Homo sapiens: one gene and its partner. Changing the gene in region 1 together with any one later gene gives a genetic interaction. Each region holds a gene or a part of one and is shown on either strand. Other genes may lie near its edges. The genes, in order: COPZ1 and EGFR.

Region 1 (3,815 bases):
TCTGTTTCCCAACAGCTGATGCTTATGGCTGTTCTGAACTGTCTCTTCGACTCATTGAGCCAGATGCTGAGGTGAGCAGGACATTCTTTTTTTTCCCCTCAAGTTATGATGGAAAGAGCAGGGCATTGTTGATTTCTTTTTGGGAGATAAAGTAACCATTCTTCAGGCCCAGGGATTGTAGGGGATTGGCAAAGGCTCCAGGGAGTTGATTTAGTTTTAGAAGTTGGGTTTTGCCGGGCTCAGTGGCTCACGTTCGTAATCCCAGTACTTTGGGAGGCCAAGGCGGGCGGATCATGAGGTCAGGAGATTGAGACCATCCTGGTTAACATGGGGAAACCCTGTCTCCACTAAAAATACAAAAAATTAGCCGGGCATGGTAGCGGGCGCCTGTAGTCCCAGGTGCTTGGGAGGCTGAGGCAGGCGAATGGCATGAACCTGGGAGGCGGAGCTTGCAGTGAGCCGAGATCGCGCCACTGCACTCCAGCCTTGGCGACAGAGTGAGACTCTGTCTCAAAAAAAAAAAAAAAAGTTGGGTTTATTAATTCACAGTAATTCATGCTACTGGGGAGGACTGGATGGAGAGTATGTCCCTCCCATAGAATAATTCTCTTACTAAGTAAGGGGACTGGGAGGGAGCCGAATCTTTACCTCTGTGTTTACTCTTGTAATCCCCTGTGGTCCTGTCAGATCTGAGCATCCTCAAGGTGCTTTCCTGGGCTTCATTCTTGACATTAGAAGTAGGGAAAGGCCAAGCATAAGGAAGTGTCCCAGATGAAATGTCATTCAGTACTTCAGGAATGGAAGCAACACTCCCAATTTTTTTTTCTTTTTTTTTTTTTTTGAGATGGAGTCTCACTCTGTCACCCAGGCTGGAGTGCAGTGGCGTGATCTCGGCTCACTGCAACCTCTGCCTCCCAGGTTCAAGCGATTCTCCTGCCTCAGCCTCCCGAGTAGAGTAGCTGCAATTATAGGCACGTGCCACCACGCCTGGCTAATTTTTGTATTTTTAGTGGAGACAGGGTTTTACCATGTTGGCCAGGCTGGTCTTGAACTCCTGACCTCAAATGATCCACCTACCTTGGCCTCCCAAAGTGCTGGGATTATAGGCATGAGCCACTTAGACCAGTTTTTTTTTGACTTCTAGTCCTTGTTTTTTCCCTTCTGTAGAACAGGAAGCACCCAGGCAGGAGGACTGCATGAGTCGAGTTCAAGACAAGCTTGGGCAACACAGTGAGACCCTGTCTCTGCAAAAAATAAAAAAATTAGCCAGGTGTGGTGGTGCATACCTGTAGTCTCAGCTACTTGGGAGGCTGAGGTAGGAAGATTGCTTGAGCCCAGGAGGTTGAGGCTGCAGTGAGCTGTGATCATGCTACTGCACTCCAGCCTAGGTGACATAGCAAGACCCTGTCTCAAAAAACAAAACAAAACAAAAAACAGGAAGCTTCTGCCATTTACCCTCTCCTCCCTTTCCACCTTCCCACTAGCCCTCTGTTCTCTGTTACCCGTGTAGATGGGTAATAGAAGAGATATAAGTTACTTTTCCTGAAAACATCCAGGGCTCTGAACTTCATTCCCCCAGCAGCTCCCAAGTGAACCCAGTACAGACAGCCATCCAGACCAGAACAGCAGGCACTCTCAGCCCTGCAAAATCAGCAGGGTGAATGGCTCAGATTTCCTCAGGAAGGGGATGATTTATTTCTTATCCAGGTGAATGAATAGTAATTCATTCGGGTAATCTAGTGAAAGACTCAAACTGACAGATGTGACAGGCCACATGCACCAACCAACGGATCTGAGGCTGGTGTATGCAGACCCTGCCCCCTCTTTGGGCTTCTTTTCAGGGCCTGAGCAGAGCTGGTAAGGGATAGGGAGAAGAGGGAACAGAGAATGTCTCAGGAGGTTTGTCAGAGCTTGAGTACAAATAAGGTTTGCATTGAACCCCTCTCACCTCCGGCCACCTCCAGACTGAGTCTTAGCTCTGTTTATATTGTTTTTTTCCACCCACTGATGTCAGTGTTTATGAGCAATGTTATGAGCAGCATCATGGCAGGTAGGAAAGAAATAATAGCGTGGATAATCAACCCCTGAATAGTCAGAAATTGACTGTGTTATTTGAATCTCTTTCCATACATTCCTTATTCAGCAAACGAGTAGAAAGGGGTTTTGAGTGAACTAGCTAAAAAGTTCTTCACCTTATTTACTTCTTTGTGTGGTTGGTGGAGATGTTTATTGGTCTAGTTTAGGTTCCTCAATTGAGACAAGGTCCTAGGATTTCTTTCACATACAAGTTGGTTATTCTCTTCTCTTCTCTTGGGGACTCAGGAAAAATGTAGAAAAGCGAGCACTGCTGGAGAACATGGAGGGGCTGTTCTTGGCTGTGGATGAAATTGTAGATGGAGGGTAAGTTCTCTGACCTGCCTTGATCTTGGGTGAGGTGGCGGGATAACTGCCCCTGTCCTAAGTCAAGCAGGCTCAGTGGCCAGAGGTCCTGTTCCCCGACAGTGAGTTGGGCCTTCGGGACAGAGTGAACAATGATCTCTTCTTTGTTTTTGCAGGGTGATCCTAGAGAGTGATCCCCAGCAGGTGGTACACCGGGTGGCATTAAGGGTAAGCAAGAATGTGTTTCTTTGCATCCCCGCATCTATTCACAAACACCCTCCAGAGCCAGACCTGCTGGATGTGTCCAGTAGTTGGGGCTCATAGGATACATACAACCTTCTCTTTTTCTTTCAAATACATTCAGCCTTTCTCTTCCCTTCTCTTCTTATTGTCCCAAAGAAAGAAGCAGAAATAACTTATTTCTACCCCTAATATGGTGCCTAACATCTCATACAGTCTTTGCACAAAGTGGACATTTAATACATACTTATTTAATAAATGATAAAATAAACTTTAATATTTATGGTTTTGAAATTATAAAGCAACTTGAAGTTGGCTTATTCCCTTCTTGGAGATGGATCCAGTCATCTGAGGCAGAGGAGTGTCTGTTTTGTCTTTTAAAGTGTTACATAGGACTGAGCGTGGTGGCTCACACCTGTAATCCCAGCACTTTGGGAAGCCGAGGCTGGCGGATCACAAGGTCAGGAGTTCGAGACCAGCCTGACCAACATGGTGAAACCCTGTCTCTACTAAAGACACAAAAATTAGCTGGGCATGGTGGTGCGTGCCTGTGATCCCAGCTACTCAGGAGGCTAAGGCAGGAGAATTGCTTGAGCCCGGGAGGTGGAGGTTGCAGTGAGCCGAGATTGCACCACTGCACTCCAGCCTGGGCGACAGAGTGAGACTCTGTCTCAAAAAAAATAAATAAATAAAATAATAATAATAAAGTGTTACATAACTGAGGATGGTACCTCTCCATTAGGAAGTACTTATTTGCCAGAACCTCAGTCCTCTTTGGTGCTGGTGATATCAGAAAGGGGCCTCTGAGTTAACCATAGAAGGCCCCAGGTCAGCTGAGGAGATAATGGTGGATGCAGAGAGAGCCCACCAACAAATTATACGGGTGCAAAGATGTCTGAGCAAAGCAAATCTCCCCATTCACAGAATGTCCTGGCTCTGACCTCCACAGAGTGAAGGCTGACAGTGCTTGGTAATGGGAAATCTCTCTTAACTGCTGTGGGCTCCATTTGCATAGTTTAATCTTCTCCTCTAACATATGTCTCTGTGTGGCAAGAGAGAGGGTCCCCCCCATCAACTCCCCGCTTTGTCTTCTTAGGCTGCTGTTGCAGCAGTTTATTTCTTCAAATTAACATGCTGTCGTTACCCATCAGGCTTTGCGGGATCCATTAAACCACTCCTGGCTCCCCCTCATCCTT
Region 2 (3,815 bases), on another chromosome or scaffold:
AAGCCACTCTTGATCTCTAGAAGGGGAGATTAACTGAGAAAAAAAATTGAAAGAACAATTATGAGGGGGAGATTTTACCCTGCCAGATTTGTGTACATGAAAAATTTTACATTCCGTATGGAAAAAAAAAACACAAAATAATAAGCCATTATAAGGTAAATGACAAACAAAGCTAAAGAAAAATGTGCCACAGTGATGACACAGATATATCTTTGAGATAGGGCTTAACAGAGCTTTAAAATCCATAGGAAAACACTTCGAGCCTGAGATACCAAGAGCAGATGGTTCACAGAAGAATCATCAATGTCCTATAAATATTTTTGAGGATCTTCTTGGGGAACTTAAAACAGGAACAGGCCAGGCACAGTGGCTCATTGGCTCATGCCTTTAATCCCAGCACTTTGGGAGACTGAAGGGGCTGGATTGTCTGAGGTCAGGAGTTTGGGACCAGCCTGGCCAACAGGGTGAAACCTCGTCTCTACTAAAAATACAAAAATTAGCCGGGCGTGGTGGCGCACGCCTGTAATCACAGCCGCTCAGGAGGCTGAGGCAGGAGAATTGCTTTAACCCAGGAGGCGGAGGTTGCAGTGAGCTGAGATCACACCACTGCACTCCAGCCTGGGTGACAGAGCAAGACTCCATCTCAGACAAACAAAAAAGGAAGACATAGAGCTCCTAAAAATAACGCAGAAGTCTGCTATTAATACAAATGAATTACTTTAAAGGTGAGAGCAGGTGGAGGAGAGGGCTGAGGTGCCTGCTGGGACGCAAAACAGCTGGCCCCTCAAGGGACCCAGTGTTTCCTGCCATGATGAAACACCTGTATTGTCCACATTGCGGCCTAGAATGTTATTAAACTCTTGAACGGGATTCCTTCTCTATTTGCAACCTTTCATTCTTTGTCCTTAAAGTAAATAAAGCCAAAGGAGGATGGAGCCTTTCCATCACCCCTCAAGAGGACCTGGACCGCCTGTGTGAGGCCCGAGCACCTGGTGCCACCGTCATCACCTTCCTTTCATGCTCTCTTCCCCAGGTAATTATGTGGTGACAGATCACGGCTCGTGCGTCCGAGCCTGTGGGGCCGACAGCTATGAGATGGAGGAAGACGGCGTCCGCAAGTGTAAGAAGTGCGAAGGGCCTTGCCGCAAAGGTAGGAAGCCCGCCGGTGTGCGGACGAGGCTTGTTCTCGGCTGCTGAGGCTGGGCTCTCATGCCACCTCCAAAGGAACACATCTTCCTCTTCTCATTAAAAAACAACTATACATATCGTTTCTTTAAAACAGAAGATAAAGCTGTAAAGCTAGGTTAGGCAATGGGAAGGCACTGAAGGTTGTGACGGGGTGGGGGGCTCTGATGAGAACAGTCACAGAGCCAGCCCCGCTCAGCAGCTGCCAGGTGCCCAGCCCTGGGGAGAATCCAGGGAAGGCAGAGCTGGAAGCAGTGCAGCTCCAAGCGGCCCATGGGAAATAATGAGGAGAACGCAAGGTCAGTGTGAGGTGACAGGGATGGCATCTCCTACACCGCCGTAGCCCCAAAGTGTACTATAGGTCCTGGTGTCCCCCCTTCCCGCCTGCACTCTCCCCAGCCCCTTCAGTGTTTGTTGAGTGAATGAAGGATGATGTGGCAGTGGCGGTTCCGGTGACCGGAATTCCTTCCTGCTTCCCTCTGCCTGTGGATCCCTAGCTATTCTTAATCCAACAAATGTGAACGGAATACACGTCTCTCTTATCTCTGCAGTGTGTAACGGAATAGGTATTGGTGAATTTAAAGACTCACTCTCCATAAATGCTACGAATATTAAACACTTCAAAAACTGCACCTCCATCAGTGGCGATCTCCACATCCTGCCGGTGGCATTTAGGGGGTGAGTCACAGGTTCAGTTGCTTGTATAAAGAAAAACAAAATCTGCCTTTTTAACTGGTAGAGATTGGTGATCAATAATCACCCTGTTGTTTGTTTCAGTGACTCCTTCACACATACTCCTCCTCTGGATCCACAGGAACTGGATATTCTGAAAACCGTAAAGGAAATCACAGGTTTGAGCTGAATTATCACATGAATATAAATGGGAAATCAGTGTTTTAGAGAGAGAACTTTTCGACATATTTCCTGTTCCCTTGGAATAAAAACATTTCTTCTGAAATTTTACCGTTAATGGCTGATGTTTTGATATTTTTCAAAAGTGCAGTTTCTCCTGCAGGCAAAAGGGGACACGTTAAGTCCAGGCTTGGGTCATTCACTGCGGTGTAAACACGCTTTCTCCCTCCCGCCCGGCCCCAGCCAGCTGCCTTGGTGGCCCATAACCCCTGAGGGTAGAGGGAGGGGACAGGGGTAGGTGACAGGCAGCCTGGGCCTCAGGCTTTTGAAACTGGACGCCAGAGCCTTGTGGGGCCACGGGCAAGCCTCGGGTCTATGACTGCCGCCTGAGCTCCGCTTCCTTCCTCTCTAAAATGGGAAGATTAGACCAAAATAACAAGACTGTTTTAAGGTTGGAATCAAATAAGGAAAATTTGTAAAGCTCCTTGTATGTGATACCAGATCCACAATTGGCAGATAATCGCAGCAGGAGCCTCTTCGGGGTAATCAGATACGCGGCGCAGCAGGGGTCTCAGGGCCACAGCCAGGGGGGCGGCGGGAGACATGCGGAATCGCAGCGGAAGGCGGGAGGCAGCTGTGAACTGTGGCTCGGCCTGCGTCCGCCCTGCGCATGTACACTCAGAGAAGATGATAATGAAAAAGAAAGCAAATCCAATTTTCCCACTTACTGTTCATATAATACAGAGTCCCTGAGAGTCTAGAGTAATGTCTCATACAAAAAAGAAACTCCTACGTGGTGTGTGTCTGAAGTCTTTCATCTGCCTTACAGGGTTTTTGCTGATTCAGGCTTGGCCTGAAAACAGGACGGACCTCCATGCCTTTGAGAACCTAGAAATCATACGCGGCAGGACCAAGCAACAGTAAGTTGACCACAGCCAAAGCCTGGTAGATTACATTTGCCTTTTTAGTTGGAAATTAGGCTTAACAGGAGAGTTGCTAAGATAGGGCACAGAGCTCCTGCATCTCTCGCCGGCATTCCCAAATGCTATCTCACATGAGCAGGCACAGGGAGCAAGACTGCACGACCACTGGCACAGGCTGTCCGCTAAACCACAGACTTCTCAGCGCTCGCCAGTGCTTCTGCTTCTGTGTCCACTCCAGATCCCACATTGCACTTAGTTGTCAAATCTTTTCAGTCCATTTCTAACCTATATTAGCTCCTGTGTCTTTCCTTGTCTTTCACGGCCTTGACACTTACAAAACGTGTGGGTCAGGTACTTTGCACACTGTCTAACCATGTCTGTTCAGCTGGTGTTTTCTCAGGATGCAATTGAGGTTATGCACATCTTATCACAGGGACCAGAGAGACTTTTTAGCACCACTCTTCAAGAATTTCCACTTTTTCAGCTTTGACAGTGGAATAGACATGCAGGTGCTCACACACAAGCATCTTTAATATGGTAATGGTAATCATCAGTTTAGTGGTGTGGAGGAGGAGATGGGAATCTCTTAGTGAAACCCGCCTTGGAAGCAGCCTCGTTATGAGAACTGCTGCCCCTACTTGACTCTTAAAGCACTAGATAATACTGTGCAACATTAAAGAGAATAAGAGTGCGTGAAATATGCATTGCCTCCCATAAACTCCCTTGGCTCTGAATCTCTGATACTAAATATGTGGCTACCGTTGCTTCCCAGAAAGGCCTTTTTGCTCTGAATTCTCTGGAATGCTTTCTTTGACCAAGATTCTTATAAAAATAAGAGATTTAGAGCAATTTTCT

The links.
Region 2: changes in COPZ1 (region 1) and EGFR together harm fitness more than expected from each alone (negative genetic interaction), as found in Homo sapiens cells (one large-scale study listed by BioGRID).

What each region holds. Positions count from the first base shown.
Region 1 is NC_000012.12:54,345,445-54,349,259, forward strand, and holds part of COPZ1 (coatomer subunit zeta-1), read left to right. Parts: intron 1-15; coding exon 16-71; intron 72-2,322; coding exon 2,323-2,400; intron 2,401-2,555; coding exon 2,556-2,607; intron 2,608-3,815. UniProt on the Homo sapiens protein: The coatomer is a cytosolic protein complex that binds to dilysine motifs and reversibly associates with Golgi non-clathrin-coated vesicles, which further mediate biosynthetic protein transport from the ER, via the Golgi up to the trans Golgi network.
Region 2 is NC_000007.14:55,154,797-55,158,611, forward strand, and holds part of EGFR (epidermal growth factor receptor isoform a precursor), read left to right. Parts: intron 1-1,033; coding exon 1,034-1,150; intron 1,151-1,736; coding exon 1,737-1,863; intron 1,864-1,962; coding exon 1,963-2,036; coding exon of another isoform or gene 2,037-2,047; exon of another isoform or gene 2,048-2,143; intron 2,144-2,866; coding exon 2,867-2,957; intron 2,958-3,815. UniProt on the Homo sapiens protein: Receptor tyrosine kinase binding ligands of the EGF family and activating several signaling cascades to convert extracellular cues into appropriate cellular responses.